2 linked regions of the Homo sapiens genome follow. The protein of the gene in region 1 interacts with the protein of each later gene in a biochemical or structural test. Each region holds a gene or a part of one and is shown in the gene's direction. Other genes may lie near its edges.

Region 1 (15,726 bases):
TCTCTGCTGAAACATGTTTGTGGATAAACATATTTTCCCTGTATCTCTGGTTATTTCTCTATAGCAGAACCTAAAGAAATTTAATCACTACCTCAAAGGCTATAGGAAGTCTTAAAGCATTTGGCATTTGCTGCCAATGTTTTCTAGAAAGCTTGAACGAACATATGTTTATATCTACAATATATACAACTCTTCCTTTGCCCGAAGAAAGTATTACAAGTTATGAAAATCTTTACTTGATACTTGAAAAATTGTGTCTCAGATTTTTTAAACTTGAATTTTAAACTTCAATGTTAGTTCTTTTCTGCAAGTAGTTCTTTTTTGTGTGATTTCTTTATATCTTTTTAAGAAATCTACTGAGGTCTTAGTATTTTATTGATTTCTATATATATTGAATATACCAAATATATCTGTTGCAAAAATTTATTCTAGTTTATTAAACTTTAAATTTGTATGTAGTATTTTTGGTGTTCTGAAATTTTATATAATATTTAATAAAATGTTACTATTTTATCTATAATTTATTTCATTGCTTGTAATTTAGATATTCCTTTCTTTCTGTCATAAATGTCTATTTTTATGTTCTTCCTAATTATTTTTAGTTATTTTTAGTTTTATAATGTTTAACACAAATCTTTCTAGACTCATTTTGCTTTACTTTATAACCCAAATAAAGCAAGGGTTTAACCTTTCTGAGCATGTTTTCTCTCCTATAATATAAAATGGAAATAAGATTACCTACCTTAGAACATTGCATGAGGCTTAAATTAATACATGTAAAGTGCTTAGAACAGTGCCTGACATATAGTAGATATTCAATAAATGTTAATTCTTATTCTAATGTCTAGAAATATCTAAAAAATAAAAAAATTTTCACAACTCATTTGGCAGAGAACTGACATGAAATGATATGAGGCTCATTTTATCACACTCAGCATGAATCTTTATATATTTCACTGCAGACATATCACTATGTTTGATTTTATGGCGCTGCCCCAAACAACAGTGGGATACTACACAAAATGCAGTATATAACTTATATTCCCTTTTTAAAAAAAACAAAGGATAAAAACCTTTGGAATGCAATTTGCCCCGAATCCAGGATTTCAAGTTATATTAGTTATTGATCAGCTGCTAATTGATAGGTATTATCTTAGGTGTCTTAGTCTATTCAGGCTACTCTGACAAAATACTATAAAGTGAGTGGCTTATAAACAATGTTAACATATTTCTCACAGTTTTGAAGCTTGGGAAGTGTAAAATCAAGATGCTGGCAAATTTAGAGTCTGGTGAAGGCCTACTTCTTGATTCATAGATTGAAACTTCTTGCTGTGTTCTCGTGTGGTGGAAGAGGCAAGGAAGCTCTCTTAGGCTTCTTTTAAAAGGACACTAATCACATTCATGAAGGCTCTGCTCTCATGATTTAATCACTGTCAAAGGCCCTTAGCTCCTAATACCATAAATTTTATGATTAGGTTTCAGCTTGCAAATTTTGCAGGGACATAAATATTTACACCATAGCACTAGATGTTGTCTATATTCCATTATTTTACTGAATCATCACAGTGATCCAATCATACATTCATTTATTCAACCAATATTTTCCAGGAACCATTTAGAGTGTCTTGGTTATATTATTAACAAAACAGATTAATTTCTCCTTCCTTCTTTGAGATAGCATCTTATTTCCTTAAGTCTACATTACTACTCCTTGTTACAACTAATAAAATAACTTTTGCAGAGGTGAAAATTAGTACTACCTTAAAAGCACACTGTGGATGAACAAATATCTTGATTTTCAAAAAATTAAACTGAGGAAAAATTAACTGTATTTTAGAGGAGCAAGTGGGGTTCAGAGACATTAAAATATATTAATTAAGTTATAGTAAATGGTAAGCTGGGGTTCAAAACTTTTCAAAGGCCACACTTCCACTGTTCCATATTTATGTCTAAAGGAATAAAAAATAAAAAAGACCCCCAACAGAATAGATCTTTTTTTTCCACTCCTGTTCTTTCTCTTCCCTTCTTGTTATAGCCACCACTATCAGCTATACATAATTGAGTGTCCTGTACCACTGAACGGGATGTAGCTCAGGAGGCTCCCTTTAGATCTGTAGAACTATTACACTCCCTTTGTATCATACTTCCACTCTACTTTCTTTTCTCATAGAACTCTCTGAAGTGAGCGATATATAAGGCAGATGTTATTAATTTCCTTTTCCAAATGAAGAAGATAAGGTGGCTAGGTGAAATGAATTACGTAAGTCATAAAAGACATCATTAAGAGAACTAGATTCAGAAGCAAGGTTATAGTACTCTGAGCTCTTCCATTCGACTCTCAGGGTACTTCAGAAATTAAAGTTGACTTGGAAAATCAGGAATGTCTATTAGAAGACTCTAATATTATATATATGTTTTTTCCTCAGAAAATATATTTGTCAGGGTTTTTCCCCATGATAGCTAAGAAGATATAGCTGTGGGAAAAACATCTGCTATAAAGATTAAGGACTATGACTAAAAGATCAGCAAATTATCTTTCTTTGGGCGTATTTGGATCTGTGTTATCTTTAATCCCATGCCTATAAATGGGATCAACCAAGGTAATTGAAGCAATTTGAGGAAATATATATGGCCACAGGATCAGGGTGGAAATAATGAAAGCAGATCACTAATACTACTGTTACAGCTGAATAATATGAGCACTTTCTCAAGAAAAATCTCAGTCTAAGAGGATAAATCAGCATCTTTACTTCTCAAATACCTTTATTTTAGGAGAAAATTGTATATATACATGTTCCTTCATAGCATTAGGCTGTGAAGGAATGTGTATATATACAATGAGATTCCTTTGCTTTCCACAAGCAGTATGTCCATTCTGCAATAAGTTCTTCCTTCTAAAAAAAATTTCCTCAATCTTTCCTGTACCTTTAAACAAAAGCAATTCATATAAGACCTCTTCTATGTCATGTTAGTGCCAATGACCAGCATAAGTGACAAAGCAGCTGGAGAATTAACTAAAGCCACGGGATGGGTCCCCGTCCTGTCAAATAAAGATATTTAATGATAGAAGAATGTACTGGAACCAAAGTCAAAATAACACTAATATTTAGATCCCAAGTATGCAATAAATAAATTTGTACCTGCTAACATATCTTATGAGTACCAAGATAGCCCTTGTTTGTTTAAATGGTTTATATCATAAATGAGCAATTAATTCAAAAAGCCAAGTTAGCAGCATACTTTGAAAAAAATGATAATTTGTTATGTGTACCTTTTAACCATTTCACACATTCTCTCAAATAACCCTTATTAACAGAGTTGCCAAACATCAGCAATTATGAAACAAGATAAAATAAAAAAAAGACTTTGAAAAAGTCTACACTAAACCTTTCTGTTTAAAGAAGCTTTGGTTATATATCTGTGCCCAGGGAATATTACTTTCTATGATAAAAAACATACTGGGTCTTTCAGGTCCAATATGTAAAGTGATCTATTTTCCTTGTTAATATTCACAGTAGGAAGAAAAGCCTTCATTTGGATGGGTGATGTAGTTTTCTCTCCCAGGGCTACTGATGGATTAACTGTACAGAGAAAATAGTTGCTGAGGTAGTCTTTATCTTTATTCAAATGAATGGTTTATGGCTCTTTTTCTTTTTTATTTCATTTTGCAATGATCTGTCTTCAAGTTCAAAAATCACTGTACCTTGCTTTATGTCTGAAACTGTTTAAGAATAGATCCAAAACCAAAATTTATTTGGTAGCCTGAGATTCTTTTTCTTCATAAATAACTTTGAAAGCATTTCATTTGCAGGGATAATGGAAATAAAATTAGTGATGAATTTGTTAACTGATGGAAAAGTTCACAAAATCATATTATTTACTTCATCAAATAGAATATATATATGTGTGTATATATATGTATATATAATGTATGCATGTATATAACATTTTATTTTTTCATATTTCATTTTTTTCAGTGGAAAAAATACCTAAAATTTGCAAGTATGCTGTTATGAGGACACACTTTATATGTTTAGGCTGATATACTCAAATTTTAATTTGATTTGTTACTAGTTTAGTTGCCTGGACGATTTTTGTAACCTCTGTATGTCTCTGTTTCCTCATCTTCAAGAGAGGTTAATACACTTGTATCATGGGGTGATTTGAAGAGCAGATGGAGTAACATATAATAACTTAGCACAGTATTTGGCACATGATAAGGACTTACTGATATTATTTCTGTGTATTATGTATCAACAATTAACAAATTTGTATGTAGGAAAACTTGTTTTTAAAAGTCAAGGTTGGGCACAGTGGCTCAGGCCTGTAATCCCAGCACTCTGGGAGGCCAAGGTGGGCGGATCACCTGAGGTCAGGAGTTTGAAACCAGACTGGCCGACATGGTGAAACCCTGTCTCTACTAAAAATACAAAAAAAAAAAAAAAAAAAAAATTAGCTGGGTGTGGTGGCGCATGCCTGTGATCCCAGCTACTCGGGAGGCTGAGGCAGGAGAATTGCTTGAACCCAGGAGGCAGAGGTTGCGGTGAGCTGAGATCACACCACTGCACTCCATCCTGGGTGACAGAGCAAGACTCTGTCTCAATAAATAAATAAATAACAAATAAGAATAAAAATAAAAGTCAGTAGCTATAAATGAGTCTATCAATTTAAATGAAACCAGAGTATAAAAAGTTTATATTCTGTGGAATTCACAAATAAAAAATGTTAAAATATGTCTATTTTTCCCACCAAAGCACTTGCTGCTTTTGTGAAGAGACTCATGTATCAGTATGAAAATGGTACAGTAGAGCATCAATAATTGAGGCAGAAATAATATATCTACTCTAAATCTTCAATTCCAAGGTTTAATATATTCACCATTTAAATGTGATTCAAATGTAAGTTAGGTTTGCAAAATATGATTTCAGACTTTTTTTTGGCTAAGACTTACGATACTTTTACATTTTCTCATGTAACAATTAGATGTTTTAGTTATTTATAGCATCCATTTGGATAAAAATATTTCAAAATATTCAAACACCACGTTTTAAGAATTACAAATAAAAAAGCATGCAGTAGTAGTGGAAAATGTCAGTGGCACAGGCAAAGGTGTTAGTAGGTTGGGACACATTAGGAAAGAAGTTATTGTAGAGATACAGTAAATTCACTTTGCTAAGTTCAGGGTCCTGAGTGATTGCCACAGCACAGTATTTTCAATTCCCAAAAAAGTCCCAAATCACATACTGAAGATATTTTCACAGAAATAAATACATTATCATGTAAGAATGCATTTTTTCTTTAAAGTAAGAGATTTAGGTTTTGCTTTAATTCCTTAGAGCAGTGATGAAAAAGAAAAAAAGCTGAAGGATGCATTTTCCGATCTTTATGGCTACTATTATAAATTCCCCAGATCTGCTAACTATGACCTTCTTCTTGTCTCCATTCTTATGAATTAGTCCAGAGAATGCTGAAGAACTGGAAGATAAACAGAGGCAAAGAAGATAGATAGGGCATTAAAGAACCAATCTCCTAGGGAAGGTTTACAACTTGACCTTCTGATGCACTTAGAACAGTGTCATTAGCAGTACTAATTACTTTTTTCAAGCCATTAGATTGTTTTCCTATTCTCAAAGACTGCCATTACTTACATTTCCAAATTTTTACCTTTTCTCCTGGTTTACTTCCCATTTGGCCCCGATTGAAAAAAATCTTTATTATTTTGGTATTTAAAAATATTTGTTTCTAACATTTGTTCAATCATTTGATATGTTATTTTTTACTTATTATATAATGATATAAATACTAGTGATCCCTAAAATATTTTAATTTGAAAATAAAAGTGAACACATAGATTTCACAAAGTACATGCATCACAATTTTTTTATACTCTATTAGTTTTTAATTTTTATAGGTACATAGTGGGTATATATATTTATAGGATACATGAAATATTTTGATACAGGCATACCGTGTGTAATATTCACATCAGGGAAAATGGGGTATCATTGCCTCAAGAATTTATCATTTCTTTGTGTTATAAGCATTTCAATTATACTTTCAGTTATTTGAAAATATACAATAAATTGTTGTTGACTGTAGTCACTGTTGTGCTATCAAATACTAGATCTTCTTCATTCTATCTATCTATATTTTTGTACAGCCTCTGGTAACCATCACTTGAATCGCTATCTCTGTGAGTTCAGGTGTTTTAATTTTTAGCTCCCACAAATGAGTGAGAACATGCAAAGTCGGTCTTTTTTGTGCTCAGCTTATTTCACTTAAGGTAATGACCTCCAGTTCCTTCATGTTGTTGCAAATGACAGGATCTTATTCTCTTTTATGGCTGAATATTACTCCATTGTGTATATGTGCCATTATTTTCTTTATCCATTACACTGATAGTTTATTTTTTAAAATAATTTCTGATGCTGCTTTTTCATACTTATTACTTTTTCCTCAGAAAAGTCCCATTGGATTTCACAATTTCACAATGCAATAAGAAGCCTATCTGATAGTGAGTAGCCTTTAAATTGTTGTTGTTATTATTTTATTGAGTCCTCTTTGTATTTACAAAGATTAAGGAGTTTCTAACCGTATCTACACTTGTAATAAATGTTATTCTTAGTCTTCACACTTGTAAAGGATAATGGTGATGAATGCAGCGGCAGAGGCTGCACGTTCCCACCCAGCACTCTCACTGAAGACTGCCTAATCAGCACTGGCTGCTGGTACTTTTCTCTGCAAGCTTAGTCTCTTCCAGGAATGACAGGTGGTAGGTAATCCTGGGAACTCAAGAGCCTCCTTGAAGCTTGGACTGATTAGAGCACAAACCATGAGCTGTTGAAATCTGGTCCCTGAACAGGAGAGTTTTTGACATGAAGCTGCTCTAGATTGCTGTAGGGCTGGGTCTCAGATCTGGTGTATCTGCCTGTTTCCATGAAAAGAGCGGAATCTTCAAAAATACTCAGGCTGTTTGTCTATTCCTCTAATAAAACTTCTATTGATGTTATATAGAATCTTGAGCAAAAGATTTGGCATCGCACCTTTTATGAGTTTCAATAAACCTTGTGATTTAAATAGTTTCATCATTGATGACAGTCTTTGGGTGAGGCCACAAGAGAGTCGCTTCTCGAGTGTCCATTAGTATATGGTGGGAAGACAGGAGGTCAATACTAAGGCTAGGAGTGAATTGCTACTGGTGCCTTCTTGCCTCAGACCAGCGGTCTTTTCGGTGTTCATGTCATAGATTGTTGAGGTCCCCTCGTTGTTTAATGTTTTGCCTCAGACTCCCGCCTGTAAACAGTACACATCTTTCTCCCTCACTTTAGCTGCTCATCATTTAAGCTGTCATTGGTCAGACATCCTAAACTTTCTCATTGTGACTAGGGCTCTGAGGGTTCCAGGGGTTCTAATTATTATCGTGGCTGCAGTGTAGGTGTCCATCACCGAGATGGGGCACCTGAGCTACTGAGCAGCCAGAAAAAAACTTTCTCCTTATCCTTGGCATCTGCCATCAGTTTAAGTACTGATTTAGGAATCTTTACGGCAAAGAAGAGGCTCTTCATCCCCGGCCCCATCCCCACCGCGCCCACCCGGCCCACATACACCCTCGGAGCCTGCTTTCCGCAGACTCCCCTATGTCCTGTCCTTGACTCCAGTTAACCTGGAGATGCTAGTTCTGGGAACTCCTAGAGGCTCTGTTGCCTCCTCCGCCTGCTCTGCGTTCCCCGCGTGAGCGCTGGATTATTCCAGTCTTTGAGCATGGCAGATTTCCACTGGATGACATCATGGGAGCCCAGTGAATGCCGGCTCAGAGAGGGGGACGGAGAAGGGGAGGGGGAGCAGAGGAGGGGAGAGGACTGGGGAGCCGAGCCAGAGCCGGGCTGCCTGCCACCCGGCTGCTCGTCCGCTAGCTGGGGAGGAGCGCTCCACCCGCAACTGACAAAGGATGGGAGAATGCCCGCGCCCCGGGATGCCGGCCGCACGCAGCCTGGCGGCCGCCTGAGCTACTTCACCCTCCGCCGGTAAGTGACTGCAAACATCATTCATTCAATCAGCCTCACTGGGAGCCCCTTCTCTCCGGCTGGTAGTCCTGGGCGGCTTGTCCCTGATCCCGAGCGGGGCTTGGCACAGCATCAGCCCTGGAGGGCAGGCAGCAGGTGCCTTTGCCTGGTGGGTCCACTGGGGAGCGTGGCTGGGGTTCGCGGCGGGTGCTGCCACCCAACCTGCGGGCGGCGGGCTCGCCCAGTAGGCGCCTCTCTGGTGAGAGGAGGCGGCTCCAGCCCGCAGCCTGGGGTAGTTGCTACTATTGGCCCCCAGCGCCCGCTCTGCGCGCGCGCCGTTTCTGGCGGATCCCCAGTGCGCGGCGCGCTGTTTACACCGGCGTGGTACTAGTCACGGAGCCGCACCCCTCGGAAAGCGCGGAGTCGATGACAGCCACTTCACAGGCTCACGCGCTCCTAGTGTGGGCTTGAAGGGGACGGGGACCGATTACCAAAGGAGAGCGCTGAGTACGGAAGACACAGGGCAGCCTTTGTCTTGGGTTTAGCGCTGATGCGCTCAACCCTGAGTCGGGTTCACTGCAACTGTTGTGTCCGATTTCGGTTCCCTGCAACCGCCCTCCTGGGCGAGAGATGTCATTGTGTTCCTGCGGCCAGCGGGACTGAGAGCTGGGACTTAAGACGCCAGGAGGGTCCTGCGCTCACGGGTGAGTGTCGCAGTTATCCAGGTGCTGAGGGAGTTTCTGGAGCTCCAGGAAGTGGAGTGACCAGTCGAGGCAGAGAGACGCCCAAGTTTTATCCCCAAATGGTGTGAGGGAAATGGCAAAGTTAAGGGAGACTCACTCTCGCTCTTTTCTCTGGTTTCTGAAGCGCTGATTTTGGAGATTTGTGACAGGTGAATGGAATCAGAGGCATGGCCAATATGTAGTTAGAGAGCCTCACGTTTTCCTGGCAATTCTTATTGTTATTCAGTAGTTCCAGAAAAGATTTGCTTGCTAAACATTTTTGAGATCAAAATGTTTTCTATTATAGAGCTCTGTGGGTTTGACGAAAAAAGATTCTGAACCTGCTCAGGTACCTTAGTTTAGAGTTGTCTCGCCTATAAGTGCTATATAGCCAACATGCCAACACCCAACCCCCTGGCTTTTTGCTTGGCGGACACAGGTTTTATTGATGAATTCCTTGTTTAGGAGGTTCAATTTTCAGATCACAAGGAAGCGGTGGTACCTATCAGAACATCTGTTTCTAATGTCAATGTGTTTACAAAAGGAATATCTCGTGAAAAAGATGGAAAGAAGTGAAAGTTTGCTACTTTGGGGGTTCAGTGACTTTTTCTGTTTTCATCCACTACAATCGAAAATATTTAAACTTTAAATAGTAATTTTGTATGTATGAATTTAATGTATATTAAATGTAAATAATCCTTGAACATTAAGGAGATTCTTGGTATACCAGTTTGGTATCCCAGCATCTAACATAATGCTATGGTATAAGAAAGCAACAATCACAATAATAATTCAAAGGGTTATTTTATTTTTCTTGAAAGAGGCTAATTTTTCTTCAGATGATTTTTTTTCTTTAAAGATAGATGATTCTAATGAAGCTTTTCTGAAACAGGATTGAAATAATTTTTCTTAGTGATTGCTCTTTTGATAAAGTTTGAGTCTTTTCAGAACAGATTTGATAGAAAATTATTGGAATAATCAATGTGGTGGAAGTTAAAAAGAAACTGGGTGAGATAATACAGGGAGGCTTTACTAAATATGAATGGTGGGACTATCAGAAGGTGCTGTGTCAGTTTTGATTTTGGAAAAGCTCATTGTAGCTTTTACATGCGTATCTCTACTGGGAAGTGCATAATTATATGTCTGATTATGTCACGCTATGTTGAGAGACCAATGTTATGAGCAAAGAGCTTGTTTTAATCCAGGACTTATGGGGTTGTCAGCAACGTTTTCTTCTGTGATACAGTTTTTTTTATTTCATTGTTTCTTGACTAATTGTCACAATAGGCTCCACCTGTTTTATCTGAAGTCGTCTTTCTAACTTTGTTGTACTATGTTTTTATGATAATGGGGTTTTACTTTAAGGTTCTTAGAGAACCTGTTGCTCATGTTGACTACTTTCCTCAAGTATTGTAATAGCAAAAACTCTTTTTGAAATAGACTTATGAACGTACGAGCTTCTGACGTGCTTACATGATGGGGTGTACACTATATAAAAATCTACATTTACATACAATATGTGTATAACTCTGATCAGATAATCAGCTAGCAATGATCAACAGGAGGTACTGTGGTGTTTGGCTCATGGTTTTTGGCATATGATATTACCTTTAGCGATAAGATGTTTTACCTCCTTAACATGGTAAATAAAAATGTATATTGAGAAGAACAGATTACATTTTATGTATGAAATCTTTAATTTTATTTCAAAAATATTTTATCCAAGAAGGTCAAAAGTACATAGATTCTTCACATTCCACTAGAATACTGAGAAAATTTCTCAGAAAGTATAAGCATATTATAAATAGATATAATTTGACTTATTTGATAGCTAGTACAATATTATTTTTAAAACCACATGGAGTAAAATAGTGTCCTTGAACTAGAGAGTATTCTCATAATGTTCTTTAATGTATTTCACACATACTTTGCCTATTTTGTTGCACAAGGGCTCTTAACTGGGCAAGGTGAGAAAAAGGAGGAAGTTGCATTATAGGGCAAAAATAAAGCCATAGCACAAAGCCCAGGGCAGGCAATAGTGATGTTCCAAGGTCACCGAAAAACATGATGTCAGGACACTGGGAAGTATCCATGGAAAGATCCTGTATGAAGAATAAGTTTATGCTGTTTGACGACCTCTTGCTTTCATTGTTCCAGTTGTGTGATTTAACAGATACTTTAGGACCTCTATGATAGAGCGAAACGTCCTTTACCCACCTTGAGGCAAAATTGTGTCTTAAACTCAATGAAGAGGTTGTCTTCTGGGCTTTTTCATGGTGTAATTCAAATTCTAGCTTAAGGATGTTTTATGGATCACAAAACATTGTAGCTTTCACTTTCCTGTAGGCCTTTGATAGGGAAATTGGTCAGTAAAACCTTGGCTGAAAGGTTTTTGCATCCTAACTTTTTCTGGAAATACAACAGTGAAAGTCAACGGTTATAGTGTTGCTGAAAATATTTAGGAGTGTGATGATCTAATATTTAGAGGGTTAAAATAATGCTGTTAATGTAGCTTTAAAAATAAAATAAAAATATTTGAGACAAATTCTCTGAAGCCACGATTATCCCTTTGCTATATATTGGGTTCATTTTGCAATTTATGACTCCCCTATGATACTATTAATTCATTTCTACCTCCTAGTGTTTCAGTGATGAACAGTGGTAGGAAATATGTGTTCTACTTTTGACTTTGTCATGTACTTGAGGACAAGGGTCGGAGTCTGTAAACATTAGTTTCATTTTACATAAAATAAAGATGATAATATCTGCCTTGCCTTTCTCATGGGGGACAGTGCATAGCAAATGAACTAGTGTACAAAAATGATTTGGAAAATTCAGGAGGAACTGTGACAAATATTATATATTAGTGAACTTAATCACTTTAAATTTCTAATTAGTTTCAGTTAAAGAAGTAAATTGATAGAGGTGAACCTAATGTGTGAATTCTATTTTATTAGGTTGGTGCAAAAGTAATTGTGGTTTTAGAATATCTGGTATGTTAAATTTGTGGCATTCTTGTCAATGCACTTATAATTTATTCATAAAAATTATGAAGTAAGTGGTTATGTATTTTTATTGCAAGTGTGCTGGCAACAAATTCACTCAGTTTTTGTATGTCTGAAAATATTTTTAAATAGATGTAATTTTTAAAGCTAAGTATAGCATTTTTGTTTGGCAGTTTTTTTTTTTTCAACATGTTGTTATTTTTATTTATTTATTTTTGAGACAGAGCCTCACTCTGTCACCCAGGTGGAATGCAGTGGCGCAATCACTGCTTACTGAAACCTCTGCCTCAAGTGGTTCTCGTCCCTCAGCCTCCTGACTAGCACCATGCCTGGCTAATTTTTGTATTTTTAGCATAGATGGGGTTTCACCATCTATGCTAAAACTCCTGGACTCAAGCAATCTGCCTGCCTCAGCCTCCCAAAGTGCTGAGATTACAGGCATAAGCCACTGTGCCCGGCCAACATTTGTTATTCTTTTGACTTCTCACTTCCATCAAACCTGTCAGTCATATTGTTGCTATGAGGGTAAATGTGTCTTTGTCTCTGGGTGATTTTATGATTTTTCATTTGCCATTATTTTCTTTAGTTTTCTATATATTGCTAGGTATAAGTTTTTTGGATTTATCCTCCAAGTTTGCAGAGCTTCTTGAATTTGTGGATTGTTATCTTTCATCAGGTGAAATTCATTGGTGAATTCTTGACTATTATCTTCTCATAGATAGCTCTACTTCATTGTGTCTGTTTTCCTGAGATCTGAGTTACATGTTTAATAGATGGTTTCACTGTACCCAACATGCTCCCTGTACTTGTTTTACTATTTTCTACTTTTTTTTTCTCTCTGTGCTTGTTTGAGTATTCTTTTGACCTTCTCTTCAGTTTACTAACCTTCTACACCATGCCTGTTATACTGCTCATCCACAGGTTATTACTGTAATTATTGTATTTTTTTAAATTTCCAAGTGTACATTTGATTTTTTCTATAGATTCCAATTTATCTGTTTTCTCCATCTTTTCTTCTATGACTTGGAGCATATTAATCAAACTTATTCTAAGGTTTTAGTCTGCTAATGTCAGCTGTATTGCCGTGAGCCTCTTTTCAGCATATCTTTACTCTTAATTTTAGTTATTGTATATAAAAATTATAAAGACTCAGCCAGGTGCAGTGGCTCATGCCTGTAATCCCAGCACTTTGGGAGGCCTAGGCAGGTGGATCACCTGAGGTCAGGAGTTCGAGACCAGCCTGGCCAACATGGTGAAACCCCATCTCTACTAAAAATACAAAAAATTAGCCAGGCATGGTGGCAGGTGCCTGTAATCCCAGCTACTTGGGAGGCTGAGGCAGGAGAATCACTAGAACCTGGGAGGCAGAGGTTGCAGCAAGCCAAGATCGTGCCATTGCACTCCAGCCTCGGTGACAGAGTGAGACTCTGTCTCAAAAAACAAAAAACAAACTTATAAAGGCTCCAGATGATCTATACATCCCCAAAGAAGTATCAACATTTCCTCTGCTAGACAGATACGGTGGGATGGTAGCCCATAGTTGTAATCCACCCAGTGACTGAGCTGACTCACAAGTTGTTAGACTTCTGGGCTCCCAGATGCCAAGGCGTAGCCACCGCACCCAGCCCAGATGTCTTGAACTTCTACTGGTGCATTCACAGGCCCTCAACACAAGCCAGGACAAGACTCCTGAGAATCCGCTCTTCTTTCCAGAAGCTTCCTTCTCAGTGTCTTAGCCTCCACTCATATGTGTAACTTCAGGCTTTAGCAAATCTCATGTAGGTAAAATCAAGTATGTGTCAAGCTGAGCGCTACACCTTTTACTTCTCACTGAGCTCTTGGCCCCTCATAGCTAATTTTGTCTCTCCAGTCCCTCAAGACTGCCAAAATCTCTGCTAGATTCTTTGTCTCACATCAGTGGTCCTCTGCTCAGGCAAAGCCCGTATTCTTAGTCTCTCACTGTCTTTCCAGATTGGCAATTGCCCCCACTCTTCATCCCGGGGAAAAAACATATTGTGAAAAGTCACATTACCTCCTTGGTACTTCTTCCATCTGTAATCTTGAAGCTTCTAGTCTTGACCTCTTCTGAAACTCTCCACCAGGTTTTATCAGAATACTGTCCTTATATCTGGCTTTTCTAGTTATTGTTGACCAAAACCATCAGCTGAAATGTGTCATTATTTTTAACTGATAATAAACATAGATGTACAGTGATCAAAGATCATTTCTTGATGGTAAAACTGGAGTTAGTAGTCCCATCCCACAGCCTCCTACGCAATACAGCTAACTCCAAACGTATTTTTAGAAGTGGTATAAAACGAAGGCAGGTTCTATCAAACAGCCATTAATATACTATGTGCCATTTTATATTGAGACTGTTTGTCTGTTTTTTAAATTTTGAGGTAAATCTTTGTGACAGTGAAGACCAGTAATTCAAATAGCCAATAGATTAAAGTTATTGGTAACTAAACATAATAAATTGGTAAAACTTTTGTTTCTTTTAGGACTAATACACACCCAAAAATACAGACACAGACACATGTGTGTATGTGTGTGTGTGTGTGTGTGTGTGCATAAAAAGTAAGGCTCCTTTCTGAACACAAGAACTCCATGGTTAACGAATCATTCTAACTTACAAATAAGCGCTACATTTATGGAGTGAAAAATGTGTGAAGTCTGGAGTCTCCCTCTTCTTAGAAACAACTGTCCTATTTTTCCAACTGTTGGCTCTGAAAAGCAACTGATACAGACTGATTTCTTGTGAAATACATACAATAGTGTTAACAAGCTAGTACTATGTTTATCTCTTTTCTTATTGGTATATGGATAAAACTCAGAACGTATTTCTAGACCAATTCACGGAAATATAGTTAATTCAGGTTATACCTGAAGTAGATTGTTAGAGATATATGATTTAAATTAACTGTGCTTTTATGGATTGACCTAGAATTTTTGTTAAGTCTGCCTGGTGACGGATGGATTGAACTATTACATGTAATGTTATTTTTGAGTGACTTGTATGTTGCAGGTAACATATTCCAGATAACATATTCCAGAAATCACTGACTATTTGGGACACAATGATTGGAAGTCGGAGAATGCCTGGAATAGATTCTTGTGCCTGCCTTCAATTCAGTGTCCTGAGGCACATCAGGAGATAAATGGAAGCTTGGTGAGAGTGATAAATTAGGTACTGACATTGAGGCTCATTGGGGCTGACTGTGGTGAGCAATGATCTGATTCTCATGAAGTATATCACATGCTTTTTGGACCCTGCCGGATGTCCTGTCAATCTCACATCTGTTTCTGGCTCTGGCTCGGGCAATCATTGTAGGCAGCCTTTGACTCAGTTGTGCTATTTCCCATCTCAAGCTTGCGCTGAGTATCTTTCACTTTCTTTTCTGTGACTTTACTAGCATGTCTTATCTTTCCCCCTGCTTCTGACCGTGGTCCATGCAGCCTGGAAGTGAGGAGGAGCTAACACCACCATGGAGCCTCGCAGTCAGTGGGAATGGGTGGATAGTTCCGAGACGCACTCTGCAGCTCCTCATAAGGTCCAAGTGAGAAGGAGCCTCAACCGGCCATGGAAGTGACCCAACTGCATGCACCTGTATTAGCCTTTACTCTCTCCCTGGTTCACTTTACCCGGTGCCTCACTCCTACTCTCCGGGATCACCTTGTATTATTTGCACATAATTTTTTAGTTCAGACTCTGCTTTTGAAGAGAGCCTGGCCTAAGATTTATGACTTTCCTTCTCTAGAGAAAAATGAATAAGAGAAAGAAAAGCAGGACTAAATCATAAGCTACATCCATTACAATGAGAGAAAAAAAGAAAGAAGATAAAACATGTATTTTCAGAGATACTTTCTTTACAAATCTGTCATCTTTCAGATCACCAAGTGAGACCATTTAAATAATTTTTCTAGTAACTGTGAGGTCATCTGTTGACATAATGATTAATTTGCATCTCTTCCTTCTTTTTTACTATACTTTAA
Region 2 (15,913 bases), on another chromosome or scaffold:
CTATGTGGTCAATTTTGGAATAGGTGTGGTGTGGTGCTGAAAAAAATGTATATTGTGTTGATTTGGGGTGGAGAGTTCTGTAGATGTCTATTAGGTCCACTTGGTGCAGAGCTGAGTTCAATTCCTGGGTATCCCTGTTGACTTTCTGTCTGGTTGATCTGTCTAATGTTGACAGTGGGGTGTTAAAGTCTCCCATTATTAATGTGTGGGAGTCTAAGTCTCTTTGTAGGTCACTCAGGACTTGCTTTATGAATCTGGGTGCTCCTGTATTGGGTGCATATATATTTAGGATAGTTAGCTCCTCTTGTTGAATTGATCCCTTTACCATTATGTAATGGCCTTCTTAGTCTCTTTTGATCTTTGTTGGTTTAACGTCTGTTTTATCAGAGACTAGGATTGCAACCCCTGCATTTTTTTGTTTTCCATTTGCTTGGTAGATCTTCCTCCATCCTTTTATTTTGAGCCTATGTGTGTCTCTGCACGTGAGATGGGTTTCCTGAATACAGCACACTGATGGGTCTTGACTCTTTATCCAGTTTGCCAGTCTGTGTCTTTTAATTGGAGAATTTAGTCCATTTACATTTAAAGTTAATATTGTTATGTGTGAATTTGATCCTGTCATTATGATGTTAGCTGGTTATTTTGCTCGTTAGTTGATGCAGTTTCTTCCTAGTCTCGATGGTCTTTACATTTTGGCATGATTTTGCAGCGGCTGGTACCGGTTGTTCCTTTCCATGTTTAGCACTTCCTTCAGGAGCTCTTTTAGGGCAGGCCTAGTGGTGACAAAATCTCTCAGCGTTTGCTTGTCTGTGAAGTATTTTATTTCTCCTTCACTTATGAAGCTTAGTTTGGCTGGATATGAAATTCTGGGTTGAAAATTCTTTTCTTTAAGAATGTTGAATATCGGCCCCCACTCTCTTCTGGCTTGTAGGGTTTCTGCCGAGAGATCCGCTGTTAGTCTGATGGGCTTCCCTTTGAGGGTAACCCGACCTTTCTCTCTGGTTGCCCTTAACATTTTTTCCTTCATTTCAACTTTGGTGAATCTGACAATTATGTGTCTTGGAGTTGTTCTTCTCGAGGAGTATCTTTGTGGCGTTCTCTGTATTTCCTGAATCTGAACGTTGGCCTGCCTTGCTAGATTGGGGAAGTTCTCCTGGATAATATCCTGCAGAGTGTTTTCCAACTTGGTTCCATTCTCCCCATCACTTTCAGGTACACCAATCAGACGTAGATTTGGTCTTTTCACATAGTCCCATATTTCTTGGAGGCTTTGCTCGTTTCTTTTTATTCTTTTTTCTCTAAACTTTCCTTCTCGCTTCATTTCGTTCATTTCATCTTCCATTGCTGATACCCTTTCTTCCAGTTGATCGCATTGGCTCCTGAGGCTTCTGCATTCTTCACTTAGTTCTCGAGCCTTGGTTTTCAGCTCCATCAGCTCCTTTAAGCACTTCCCTGTATTGGTTATTCTAGTTATACATTCTTCTAAATTTTTTTCAAAGTTTTCAACTTCTTTGCCTTTGGTTTGAATGTCCTCCCATAGCTCAGAGTAATTTGACCGTCTGAAGCCTTTTTCTCTCAGCTCGTCAAAGTCATTCTCCATCCAGCTTTGTTCCGTTGCTGGTGAGGAACTGCGTTCCTTTGGAGGAGGAGAGGCGCTCTGCATTTTAGAGTTTCCAGTTTTTCTGTTCTGTTTTTTCCCCATCTTTGTGGTTTTATCTACTTTTGGTCTTTGATGATGGTGATGTACAGATGGGTTTTCGGTGTGGATGTCCTTTCTGTTTGTTAGTTTTCCTTCTAACAGACAGGACCCTCAGCTGCAGGTCTGTTGGAATACCCTGCCGTGTGAGGTGTCAGTGTGCCCCTGCTGGGGGGTGCCTCCCAGTTAGGCTGCTCGGGGGTCAGGGGTCAGGGACCCACTTGAGAAGGCAGTCTGCCGGTTCTCAGATCTCCAGCTGCGTGCTGGGAGAACCACTGCTCTCTTCAAAGCTGTCAGAGAGGGACACTTAAGTCTGCAGAGGTTACTGCTGTCTTTTTGTCTGTGCCCTGCCCCCAGAGGTGGAGCCTACAGAGACAGGCAGGCCTCCTTGAGCTATGGTGGGCTCCACCCAGTTGGAGCTTCCTGGCTGCTTTGTTTACCTAAGCAAGCCTGGGCAATGGCGGGCGCCCCTCCCCCAGCCTCGCTGCCGCCTTGCATTTGATCTCAGACTGCTGTGCTAGCAGTCAGCGAGATTCCGTGGGCGTAGGACCCTCCGAGCCAGGTGTGGGATATAATCTCGTGGTTCGCCGTTTTTTAAGCCGGTCTGAAAAGCGCAATATTCGGGTGGGAGTGACCCGATTTTCCAGGTGCGTCTGTCACCCCTTTCTTTGACTCAGAAAGGGAACTCCCTGACCCCTTGCACTTCCCAAGTGAGGCAATGCCTCGCCCTGCTTCGGCTTGCGCACAGTGCACGCACCCACTGGCCTGCGCCCACTGTCTGGCACTCCCTAGTGAGATAAACCCGGTACCTCGGATGGAAATGCAGAAATCACCCGTCTTCTGCGTCGCTCACGCTGGGAGCTGTAGACCGGAGCTGTTCCTATTCGGCCATCTTGGCTCCTCCCACCTATTTCTTTTTCTTACCCAATTGTTTGGCTAGGGCATCCAGCACTGTGTTGAATAGAAGTGATGAAGTAGGCAGACTTACCTTGTTCCTCATCAAGGAAAAGCTTTCTGTTTTTCACCATTAAGTGTGATGCTAGCAGTGGGATTTTCACATATCCCCTTTATTATGTTGAGGTAAATTCCTTCTTTCCTTCTATTCCTAGTTTGTTGAGGGTTTTATGATGAAAGAGTGTTAAATTTTACCAAGTATTTTTTCTGTGTCTATTGAGATGACCATATGATTTTAATGATGTACCATACTAATTTTCATATGTTGAATCATCTTTGCATTCCAGGGATAAATCCCACTTGGTCATAGAGTATAATCCTTTTAATGTACTATAGAATTTGGTTTGCTAGTATTTTATTGCAGATTTTTGCATCAGGGATATTGGCCTGTAGTTTTCTTTTCTTGTAGTGTCTTTTTCTGGCTTTGCTGTCAGGTTAACACTGGCCTTGTAAAATGAGTTTGGAAGTGTTCTATCCTCTTCAAATTTTTGGAAGAGTTTGAGAAGGATTAGTGTTAATTCTTCTTTAAATGTTTGATAGAATTCACCAGTGAAGTCATCTGGTCTTGAGCTTTTCTTTAATGGGAAGCTTTTGATTGATGATTCAATCTGATTACTAGTTACAGGTCTGTTCAGATTATCTATTTCTTTATGATTCAGCTTTGGTAGGTTCTGTTTCTAGGAATGTGTCCATTTCTTTTAGGTTATCCAATTTGTTGGAACGTAAGTGTTCACAGCAGTCTCTTACAATATTTTTTTAATTTCTGTGGCATCAATTGCAATGTCTCCTGTTTCATTTTTCATCTTATCTGAGTCTTCTCTTTTTTTTTATAGAGACAGGGTCTTGCTACGTTGCCCAGGCTGGTCTTGGACACCTGGCCTCAAGTGATCCTCCTACCTTGGGCTCCCAAAGTGCTGGGATTACAGGCATAAGCCACCATTACGCTTTAATCATTATTTCCTTTCTCTGCTAACTTTGGGCTTAGCTTGTTCTTCTTTTTTTAGTTATTTAACATGTAGGGTTAGATTTTTTATTTGAGATATTTTTAATATGTTTATTGTTATCAACTTCCCTCTTAGTATTGCATTTGCTGCATTCCATAAAGTTTGGTATGTTATTTTCTTTGTTTCTAGATATTTTCTAATTTCCCATTTGTTCAAGAGTATGTTGTTGCATTTCCACATATTTGTGAATTTTCCAATTTTCCTTCTAATATTGATTTCTGGTTTCATTCCATTGTGATTGGAAAAGGTACTTGGTATTATTTCAATCTTAAATGTGATAGGACTTGTTTTGTGATCCAGCATGTGATCTATTAAAAAAAAATGTTCTGTGTGTTCTTGGGAAAAATGTGAATTCTTCTGCTATTAGGTAGAATGTTCTGTGTATGTTTATCAGGTCCATTTGGTCTATAGTGTCGATCAAGCCCCTTGTTAACTAATTGATCTTTTGTCTAGATGTTCTAACCTTTATTGGAACTAGGGTATTAAAATCCTCTATTATTATCATGTTGCTGTCTATTTCTCCCTTCAGTTCTGCCAATGTTTGCTTCATATACTTAGGTGTTCTGATGTTGGTGCATATAAATTTATCATTGTTATATCTTTCTGGTGAATTGAACCTTTTATCATTATATGATGTCTTTCTTTGTTTCTTTTGACAATTTTTGATTTAAAGTCTGTTATGGTCTGAATGTCCCCAAAAATTCATGGGTTGAAACTTAATCCCCATTGTGGTGGTTTTAAGAGGTGGAGCCTCTTGGGACGTGATTAAATAATGAAATATCTGCCTTCATGGATGGATTATAGCCTCATCAAATGCCTAGACAGAACTAGCTTAGGCCCTTTTTTCTCTTCTACTCTTCCACCATGTGAGGACACAGCAATTCATCTCTTTTTGTCCTTCTTCCACCATGTGAGGTTACAGCAAGAAAGCCTTCACAAGACTTGAATGCCAGAACCTTTGACTTCCCAATCTCCATAGCTGTAAGAAATCAATTTCTGTTATTTATAAATTACCCAGTTTCAGATATTTTACTACAGTTGCACAAACAGACGAAGATAAAGTCTATTTTATCTTTTGTAGGTATGGCTACTCCTGCCCTCTTTTGGTTATCATTCGCATGGAATATTTTTCCATCCTTATACTTTCAGCCTATGTGTGTTCTTAAATCTAAAGTGAATCTTGTAGACAGTGCATAGTTGGATCTTATTTTTTTAAAACTCATTCAACTGTGCTATGTCATTTGGGCAGCTTAGTCCATTTATATTTAAAGTAATTATTGATAGAAAAGGGGTTACTATCAACATTTTGAAATTTGTTTTTTGTGTTGTAGCTATTCTGTTGCTCTTTTTATCTCTTGCTATCTTCCTTTGTGTTTCATGGATTTTTTATGGTGACATGATTTTATACCTTTCTTACTTTCTTTTGTGGAAATTCCATAGGTATTTTCTTTGTGCTCACTGTGGGACTTACATAAAACAGCTTATAGATATAACTATCTTTTTAAAGCCGATAAAACTTAAATTCAGCTTCATATAAAAACTTTGCTTTTACTTCCCCCCCCCCACAGTTATGGATGTCACAAATTATATTTTTAATAATGTACAGCCATTAATATATTTTTATAATTATAATTACTTCTATGCTTTTGTTTTTTTTAACTTTTATACCAGAATTAAGTGATTTACACAATACTGTTACACTATTACAGTATTCTGTACCTGTCTATATATCTATCTTTACCAGTTAGCTTTATACTTTCATGTTTTTGTATTGCTGTTTAGTATCTTTCCATTTCAACTTCAAGGACTCTCTTTAGCATTTCTTGAAAGGCAACTCTAGTGATGATCTTATTCTGCTTTTGTTTGTTTAGGAAAGTCTTTATTTCTCATTTTTGAAGGCTAGTTTTGCCAGAGAGAGTATTCTTGGTTGGCTGGTTCTTTTCTTTCAGCACTTTTAATACCTCATCCCATTCCCTTTTGTCCTTCAAAGTTTCTGCTAAGAAATCCATTGCTAATCTTATAGGAGTGTCCTTGTATGTAATGAACTGCTTTTCTCTTGTTGCTTTCAAAATTCTCTTTTTGGCTTTCGACAATTTGATTATAATGTGCTTCAGTGTCTATTTGTTTGGGTTCATCTTATTTAGGCCTATTGGGCTTCTTGGATCTGTAGTCCATTTTCTCCCTCAGATTTGAGAAGTTTTCAGCCATTATTTCTTTAAATGAGCTCTCCAACCCTTCTCTTTCTTGGACTGCTCTAATAGATATATTGGTACATTTGATGGTGTCCAATAAGTCTCTCAGGCTTTCTTTACTTATTTTCTTTGTTGCTATTTTTATTGTTCCTTTTTGCTCCTCTGGATAATTTCAAATGACTTGTAATTGAATTGCTGATTATTTCTTCTGCTTGATCAAGTCTGTAGTTGAACCCCTCTAGTGAATGTTTTAGTTCAGTTAAAATTGCATTCTTTGGCTCCAAAATTTCTATTTGGTTCCTTTTAATATTTTCTATCCTTATTGAATTTCTCATTGGTTCATGCATCACTTTCCTGAACTCATTGAGCATCAATATGATGGTTATTTAGAATTTTTTGTCAGATAATTCATATACCTCTGTTTCTTTAGGATCTGTTTCTGGAGACTTATTTTGTTTCTTTGACTTGACCATTTCCCGTTTCTTCATATTTCTTAGAACTTTGTGTTGGTATCTGCATATTAAAAAACAAAACACACAAACAAACAACAACAACAACAACAAACCAGCCACTTCTTCCAGTCTTTACCAGCCGGCTTTGTACTGGGAAAGACCTTCATAATCTTTAGCCTGGCTAAAGATTCTGGGGACCTCTCAAACATTTTCTGTGGATACGTTTTCTCTGGGCTTATGCACGTAGATTCCTAAGTAGAGAGATTTTCTGGCTTCTCTTTTTTAAGAGTTCATTATCTCTTGCTCCATCTGTTGTCTATCTTCTATAGTGTGTGTCCTCCAAAGTAGCAGCACACTGTCCAGCTCTTTTTTTTTGATCTTGGCAGCCCCTAGTCTTCTAGAGTATGTTAGACCTTCTCTGCCTTAAGTGGGGCTACATGGAAACCAGTCCCTTTGGCAGCCCTTTGAAAAGCCAGAATTCTGGACACATGTTCTATTTTTCTCTTGCCCTCCTGAAGAAGAGGGCACTGAGCTGTATTGGCCTCTGCTGTGCCACAGGTCCTCTGAAATAGCATCATGCTATTTAGCTCTTTGGTTTCTTTTCATGGGGCCCCAGGCATCTAGAGTATGCCAGTGATTCAAGACAGACAAGAAAGAAACCAATCCTATGGGCATCTCCCCATTTCCCCAAAAAGCAGGAATATTGGTTGCATGCTTCACTCTTTTCCATGTCCCCTAGGGATAGGCCACTGAACTGTATCAGTCTGTATCTGCTGTAGCAAGAACCCTCTAGGACAGCAATATATCACCCAGTATTTTTTTGTTCTCAGTGTCCCCCAGGCATCTAGAGTATGGTGGGTCCTATAAACTCTCTAAGACAGGTAAGACAGAGGCTAGTCCCTCAGGCAGCCCCCAGGAAAGTCAGAACTTTGGTTTTTTGTTGTTGTTGTTGTTTTGAGACGGAGCGTCGCTTCTTCGCCCAGGCTGGAGTGCAATGGCGCAATCTCGGCTCACTGCAACCTCCGCCTCCCGGGTTCAAGCAATTCTCCTGCCTCGGCCTTCCAAGTAGCTGGGAGGAATGTGCCAGCATGCCTGGCTAATTTTTGTATTTTTAGTAGAGATGGGGTTTCACCATGTTGACCGGGCTGATCTCAAACTCCTGACCTCAAGTGATCCGCCTGCCTTGGCCTCCCAAAGTGCTGGGATTACAGGCATGAGCCACCGCGCCCGGCCAAAAAGTCAGAACTTTGGATATATGGTCTAGTCTTCTCATTTCTTCTTCAGGGAGAAGCCAAAAACTGGGAATTTCCTCCTAACCATGTGGCCCTGTGCCGAGAGGACAGACTATGGTGAGGGTATACCGTGAATTTTCCTACTGGCTTCAGTGCAGTTGTTTTTTTTGCTCACCTAGTGTGATGTAGCCTCTTAGCCAGCTTCTGGATTTCTCACAAAAGGAATTGGTCTGTGTATAGTTAAGTTAGTGTCTCTCTGGGAGGGAGCACAGGCTGGGGTTTCTCATTCTGCCATCTTGCTGACGTTCACTGTGGTTTTGATTTGCATTTCCCTAATGACTAGTGGTTTTGAGCACATTTTCATGTGATATTGGCCATTTCTATATCTTCCTTGAAGAAATGTCTGTTCAACTCTTTTGCCTACTTTTTAATTGTTTGTTGTTTCTTCTGCAAAGTTGTAGGAGTTTTTTTAATCATATATTCTGGATATCAATCCCTAAACATTTATTGTTTTAAGGAAATAAATTTTGAGATAATTTGTTATACAGCAATGGATAACTAATAAATACTAAAAACTCCTAAATGTATATACTAAATATATTAATTAGAAAATTGTAATATAAAAATACTAAAAGCTAAAACTGTCTGATATTAGGAAGATAATTTTACTACAATATATACCTTTTTTGTGTGTATGAGACAAGGTCTCATTATGTTGCCCAAGATGTTCTCAAACTCCTGGGTTCAAGCAATCTTCCCACCTCAGCCTCCTGAGTAGCCAGGATTACAGGTATGTGCCATTACAGCCAGCTTTCACAGTGTATACTTGATGTACTATTAATGTACTATTTAATGACTACTAAAAAGTTTATGATAACAGGAGAAAATGCTTATGCTATCTTAAATAAAAATTTGAGTGTATGCATTGATACCAAGAAATGGAAATTTGAGTGTGTACACTGCTACCAAGAAACTGAAAAATGACATCCCATACCTTTAATATTTAATATTTATAACAAATGAGGTTTACATGGATTTTTTTATCTCATCTTATTTCTGATGTGTTATGTAGTTATAAATACTATTTTATTTGCACTCCTGCTCTGCAATAATTTTGAAGATAGATAACTTATATTATTGCTGTCTTCATTTTTTAAAATTCTCAAATCCAGATGAAATTATCAAAGTTGATAAAATAATCATTGTTCTATCTTCTTATTTGAAGATTAATAATTGTGTTGATTTTGCTTCCTTGCTCTAGTTAGCAGTGATGTCATCTGCTATTTTTAAACTTCCTTGAAATAATATATGTAATCTACTTCTAATAAGTTTTTCTTATTTAGCATTTTGGTCTAAACTAATTTATAATTATTTAGCCTTATTTCTCCATGTTTAACTTGCTTTAAAGCTCAGCACTGGTGTTTTCAGCCATGGCTTCTCCATTTTAAGGCTATTTTAATTCATTTATTATTCTGGAATATATCCTTAAATAATTTATTTAGGAAGGCTGTCTTGGTGGTGGTATTTCTGTTGCAGTTGTTGTTTTCTTGCCTGCTTGGTGACATATTTCTATTGACTTGACACTTAACTGGCATCTTATCTAGGTAGATAATGCTAATTCAAAATTCTGCAGATATTGTTCTGTTGTTTTTTGCCATTTAGGGTTGAGTAAGATGCCAAGTTGTTTTTTGTTTCTCTGTAGTCATTCTGTTTTCATTTTGTTTTTAGCTTTGCCTTTGGAATTTAAAATGTTCAAAATGATTTGTCTGGATGAGAATCGATTTTCATAACTTTTGCTTTGATACACTAAACAGTTTGAGTTTCTAGATGATGCCCATTTTAATTCATACGAGGAAATATCTTCTAGTATAGTTTCTGCTTGATTAATTCTATGTTTGTCTCTTAGGGACATCTATTAATTTTATAATGCTGCCTTTTTTTCAGACTTCTGTTTCAGAATATTCGCTTTCATCAATGTAATCCTTGGCTATAGTAGGAATGAAATAATAAAAGCAGTAGCTTCTGTCTGCCCTCCTTGGTTATGCAGTCCTTACAGAACATCTCCCCATCTCCCATCCCCCCACCCCAGCTCAGTGAAACTCTCCACACTTTGGTTGTGGAAATTGGCAGGGTTAGGTGGCTACTCACTCCCAATCCACATCCACAATAAATCACTTTTTATTATCTTATCAAAATCTGTAGAATGCCTCTTTATTCTATTTTGTTGCTGCGGAGGTTTGTTTTCTCTTTCTAATTATTTTATTTTCTAGGTTTTTTGAGGGAATTTCAAGAGGGGAGATTTTTTATTCAGGCTCATCTTAACGTCATGTCTGGAACTCAAGCTACTGAATTATATATTCTTTAATACATATAGACCTACGTCAATGAGTTTAAACTGCAAGGAAAGGGTTAAATTTCTTCCTCAAGTGTGGTCAAAATCTGTAGAGAAAAGAGGAACAGCTTCTCTTAAAGAAAGTTAGCTGGGTAGGTATACAGTCATTGCCGAGGAAGGCTTGCACAGGGTGAAAGCTTTGCTTCTCTGCTGCTGTAACAGGGACTAGCACAGACACACGGATGAGTGGGGTCATTTCCAGATATTAGGTCACAGCAGAAGCAGCCAAAATGGATCCCCAGTGGTGAGTAATAATTCTTATTCTTTGCAGAGAAGTTATGAGTTGTGACTGCAGTGAAAGGCTGAGGTTGAAGATGGTGCTTTGATGTGTGTCCTTCACTTAGTTCCTAAGTGGAGAAGCTTTCTTTTTCTACAAAAGATCTTTGGCACATAAAGGCAAGAATTATTTGCAATGCCCAAAGCAGTTCATTGGTGGTAGTTATATATATTTTTAGGTGCCTAATTTTGGTTTTGTAAATCTGTTATTCAAATACTGAATGTTACAGTCATTGATTTTAGTGAAGAATCAGGAATTTTTAAAATATCTGCATAAGAATGACAAATAACAGGGAATATGTTTTTTGTCTACCAGGGTCAGTTTGGTCTGAGGGTGGAGGAATGAGATAGAGAAGGTAGAGGGAGAGAGATCAAGAAAAAGAAAGAGAAAAAAGAGGTATAAGGAGAAAATGCAAAACTCAGTTAATATGTCATAATCAGGCCATGGGAGATTCTGGGCAGGGTTGGGTAGTGGAAGGAGGTAGAGTGATTAAATTAGTTACCATGTATTGAACATGCATGATGTGCTGGGTACTTTACTAGTGCTATTTCATTGAATTTTATTCTTCACAATGACTTTTGGAAAGACATCATCATTCTTTTTGACAGATGGGGTAACTGTGGCTTAAAAAACTTGCCCAAGTTCACACTATTCATAAGGGGTAGAGCTAAAATCTTTCCTGCCCGCTTCGTGGTGCGCCAGAAGGTTTCTCCATGCTGTGGAGACTTCCTGGAAGGAGTCACACCCGCCCTTCTCTTGGGTGGTGGCAGCTGGCGCCAGTCACTATGTATTTATTTATTTTTAATTATTTATTTTTGAAACAGAGTCTCGCTCTGTCGCCAAGCTGGAGTGCAGTGGCGCAATCTCAGCTCACTGCAACCTCCGCCTCTCGGATTCAAACGATTCTCCTTCCTCAGTCTCCTGAGTAGCTGGGACTACAGGCGCCCACCACCACGCCCGGCTAATTTTTGTATTTTTGGTAGAGACGGGGTCCACCATGTTGGCCAGGATGGTCTCGATCTCTTGACCTTGTGATCTGGCCACCTCGGCCTCCCAAAGTGCTGGGATTACAGGCGTGAGCCACCGCGCACCCGGCCGTCACTATGTATTTATAATTACTGTTCTTTGAAAATCGAAGTAACTTTCATCTACCCAGTGCTTACTGGTTTGAGAAAAAGCTTTGTTGCTTTTATTTCAGAAGATTAAAATTTAATTTTCCAGTAAAGATTCCTTTTGCTCCAGTGGAATTTTGAAGCGTTATACTTGTATGAAGAAAAAAAGAATTTCAAAATTTATAATTTTTGTGGTACCATAGAGGGGATACTACTTAATTATGCTAGCACTGTCTGCAGAGGTCTAAAAAACCATAGGCTGCTGTCTATATTGAACTTGTTAAGATTCCTTTTGTTTCACAGTGCCTGAAGATTGGTCATGAACCAGTAATAGCCATTAAACAATGTCTGTTCTCATAAGAGATGAAATAAATACAAATTAAAACAACAGTGAAGTATCATTTTTTCTCTATCAAAGAGATAAATATTAAGTTTTAAAAAGCAAGCAATCAAGAACCCTCTATCTTGCTAAGAAGGGAGGATTATTTGTACCCTAGTTGCGCACTAGTGGTGATATCATCTTTCTGGACAATAATCTAGTGATACATATCAAAAGCCTTTAAAATGTATATGCCCTTTAACCAAGCAATTCACCTTTTAGGAATTTATTCTAAGATATAATAATACATGTTTGTAAAGTTTTAGTGATGGATATTTTTCTTGCTATTGTTTCTAATAAGGAAAATCTTAGAAACAATTTACGTGTTTAAAAACAAGTGATTGGATGATTATGGAACATCCATAATGGAATACCATGTAATTATTTAAAATTCCACTGTAGAACAATTCATAATGTGTTTAGTTAAAGGGGAAAAATGCAGAACGAACAGTGCTATCACTTTTATACATGATACATGTATACAAACAATATTAATCAGAAATATAGGTAGTTTGTATTTTCTACTGTGTGCTTTTCAATTTGAATCCCATCTGTAGGCAGAAAAATAAAGTTAAATATTTAAGATTTAAAAAAAACAATAGCTGGTTTTTTTCAGAGAAGTAACCATCTAGTGATGTGTGATAATTTATAAGTTGTGAGATTCCATAGTTAGGGCTTTAGCCCTTTGCATTTATCTTTCTTCATCTCTTGAATCCTCTTCAAAATACACCCACTCTACCCATAACTCATTAGATCTTGAAAGGCATGTTCTGATAGAATTTTATATTTAGAACAGGCTGCAGCACTCTTCCCTTATTTTACAGAAGTGATTGCATGGCTCTCTAGGGTGAGTTGCATATTGAGAGGGAGGACAGTGCAGTGGCTAAGTGGCCGCACATTGAAGCCAGGCTGCTGGGGTTTGAATACCAGTTCCCCAACTTCCTAGCTATGTGATTTTGGACAAGTTGCTTAACCATTGTAATTCCCAGTTTCTTGTCTGTAAAATGGGAGTATGGTAATATGTCGTAAAGTAGTTGTGAGATTTTAATGAGATAATCCATATCCTGCTAAGTACTCAGGAATTGTTAGTAGTTTTTATTACTATTACTGTTTGGATTAAGAAACAGAGGAAAAGTGATTTGTCCAAGATTATACAACCACTTAATGGCATTACTAAGAACAGAATGGAGGAAGGTTTTTTCCAGCAGAAATGTTCAGTATCCTCTGTGCCTGGCAGGACAACCCCAAGTTGTGCTTTTGGGATGGAGGAGCTGATCTAAAACAAGCAGTACCCAGGACAAGGCCAGCCTCCAGGGAGTGACTGATGACAGTGGGAAGCCAAATGGTAGAAAGGCAGGTGAAGTTAAGGAAACTGAGAGTCAACTTAGGAGCAGGAATGAAGCCTGGAGCAAAGAGCTAGTGCAAGAGAGAGCAGATGACTCAGAGCTACTGGGGCTTTTGTAGGCCACCAGCTATGGGCTTCACGGGAGGTTAATGTGGTTTAAAGTCTCAAGACCTGGGTAATTAAATAGACAAATGGGGTCTAGGTGCATGGGGGAATTTTAAGTATAGCTTTGAGAAGATGCCTAATGGGGAGTAATAATAGAGAAAGAAGCTGGGTGGGGCCAGAACAAGGAGCCCACAGTCCAGGCATCCAGCTATGATCATCCTAAAGGAACAGCCTAAGTTTGAAGAATCATAAACAAATAGAGACATGATAAAATTTACTTTAAAAAAAATCCCTTGGCAGAAGAATGAAAACTGATTTGGAGTGACAAGGAGATCATTTAGGAGACTATTGGAGTAAGCCAAGGAGAAATGGCGAGGGCATGAAACCAGGGCAGTTATGGTGGGATCAGACTGGAGAGGATGCATTTAAGAGATATTTTAGCACCAGAATTGACAGAATTTGGTTTTTGACAGATGTAGACACTGGGAGAGGAGGAGAGATCTAAGTGCATAGTGGCATCCTTCACAAAATGGAAGGTATAGGAAGCAGAGTGGGTTTGCGCCAGGCAGAGAGAAAAGACAGATGGTGAATTCCTTCTCTAACATGTTGAGTTTGAGGTGCCTGTGGAGCAGCTGGATAGAGATGTCCAAGCAGACAAGTAGATATTTAGGTGCAAGTTCAAAAAAGAGGGATGGCCTGGAATGCACATGAAGAGTCTTCTGCATAAGTATGGTTGACAGTTGAAATTCTCATTGTGGGTCAATTCAGTAGCAGAGAGGTTGGAGGATTGAGAGGAAGCCAAGGACAGAACCTGGAAAACCTTGACATCTAAGGAGGGAGATGAGGAAGAAGAATCTACAATAGATACTAAGGAGGGGCTAGAGAGACTGGAGCAGCCCAGGAGAAAAGTGGTGTCATAGAAATCAAGTGGGCCTGTAGTCCCAGCTACTTGGGAGACTGAGGCACGAGAATAGCTTGAACCCAGGAGGCAGAGGTTGCAGTGAGCTGAGATAGCACCACGGCACTCCAGCCTGGGTGACAGAGTGAGACTCCGTCTCAAAAAAAAAAAAAAAAGAAAGAAATCAAGTGGGGAGATGGATGCAAGAAAGAGGAGAATGCATTCATGGAAAGAGCATATTTACCAAGCTTTCCATGTTGAACACATGAGATGTGACATGAAAGGTAACTGTAGTGACTACATGTTAAGCGTTGAATTGTGGCTCCCTTAAAATTCATATGTTGAAATCCTAACTCCCAGGGCTTCAGGATTTGATCATATTTGGAGATAGGGTCTTTACAGAGATAATAAAATTTAAATGAGGTCATTAGGGTGGGTCCTAATCCAAGACAATTGTTGTGCTTATTGTAAGGAAGGGAAACACACAGCGGAAAAGCGGTGTGAAGACACAGGGCGAAGACGGCCATCCACATACAAGCCAGAGAGAAAGGCTCGCAACAGATTCTTTCCTCACAACCTTCAGAAAGAACCAACCCTGTGGAAACCCTAAGTTTGGACTCCTGGCTTCCAGAAAAAAAATAAATTTTTTTTGTTTAAGCCACCCCAGTTTGTGGTACTTTGTTACCACAGCCCCAGCAAACTAATACACTTGGTGAGAGTGCATACAGCCAGAGAAAGAAGCTGTGAATAAGTGCATCAGGGAGGAGGGAAAGAAACCAAAACAGGATTACATCACTTAAATTAAGAGTAGAAACATTTCACAAAGCAGAGTGTAGTCACAGGTCAAATTCTGCAGAAAGGCGAAGTAGGAGAATGACTGAAAATGTCAGTCCAGAGGCCCTCAGTGACCTTGACCTTTGCAGAACACTCCCAGTTGAGTGGAGGCAGTAGACTTTGGAGAGCTTGGAAAATGGAGGCAGCACAGATGGTCTCCTGCAGAAAGTCTGGTGATAAAATGAGACCTCCTCACTGGAGTAAACTCACCTCTGCTGTCGGTGGAAATAATCTGGAGTCAGGCCAGCCAGACCCAGAGTTCTTCCTTCCTCCATTTTAAAGGTTAAACAGAGCTGAGGTCAATGGCTCATGCCTGTAATCCCAGTGACTCAGGAGGCGGAGGTGGGAGGATGGCTTGAGGCGAGGAGTTCCGTTCAAGACCAGTCTGAGCAACATAGCGAGACTCCCATTCCTAAAAAAATTTTAATTTAAATTAAAAAAAAAGGCTAACCAAAAATAAAATCCAATACTTTATTTTTCCCACCCAAAACTAGTTTGGGAAGGATTTCTGGAAGAAAATAATTTTTGCAGTCATTTTACATGTTGGATTTTGAGTGCACATAACATACAGATTCTATTCTGTATTATCAGTTCAGAGGCAAGTTGAGATTTGAGGCTTCGCAGAGGTAAAGCCTCTGGTGAATCTGGTGAGATAAAGAAGAAAACAAGCCCAAGAGGAATTTCAGGGATCATTTATAATTTACATCAATAAACAGAATGGGAAAAAAAACCCATTAGAGTTTGGAATAGAGAAGTATTAAAACACTTTCTTAGAAAGCTTTGAGTCAAAATTAATCTTTCTGTAGTGGCAGGAATATGATAAGCCAAACAACCCTAATGTCACAGCTCTATATTATTAGGTGTCGAATCAGATTTGCACTAAAACATCAAGTAAAAATAAAAGGAATGAACATTTGGTTAAGTGAACCAATTAGTCAATACACGCCAGAAAATGGTAAAACTGGATAAACCTAAAATACTCAACTACCTAGATTAATCAAGGCCAACCTAGATTATCACCCCAATATTACAACTATTTTC

The links.
Region 2: the proteins of MARCHF1 (region 1) and CD86 form a complex in vitro, tested with the Homo sapiens proteins (one study listed by BioGRID).

What each region holds. Positions count from the first base shown.
Region 1 is NC_000004.12:164,376,168-164,391,893, reverse strand, and holds the start of MARCHF1 (E3 ubiquitin-protein ligase MARCHF1), read left to right. Parts: upstream 1-7,874; 5' UTR 7,875-8,024; exon of another isoform or gene 8,025-8,707; intron 8,708-15,726. UniProt on the Homo sapiens protein: E3 ubiquitin-protein ligase that mediates ubiquitination of TFRC, CD86, FAS and MHC class II proteins, such as HLA-DR alpha and beta, and promotes their subsequent endocytosis and sorting to lysosomes via multivesicular bodies.
Region 2 is NC_000003.12:122,045,338-122,061,250, forward strand, and holds the start of CD86 (T-lymphocyte activation antigen CD86 isoform 1 precursor), read left to right. Parts: upstream 1-10,024; 5' UTR 10,025-10,152; coding exon 10,153-10,166; intron 10,167-15,082; exon of another isoform or gene 15,083-15,913. UniProt on the Homo sapiens protein: Receptor involved in the costimulatory signal essential for T-lymphocyte proliferation and interleukin-2 production, by binding CD28 or CTLA-4.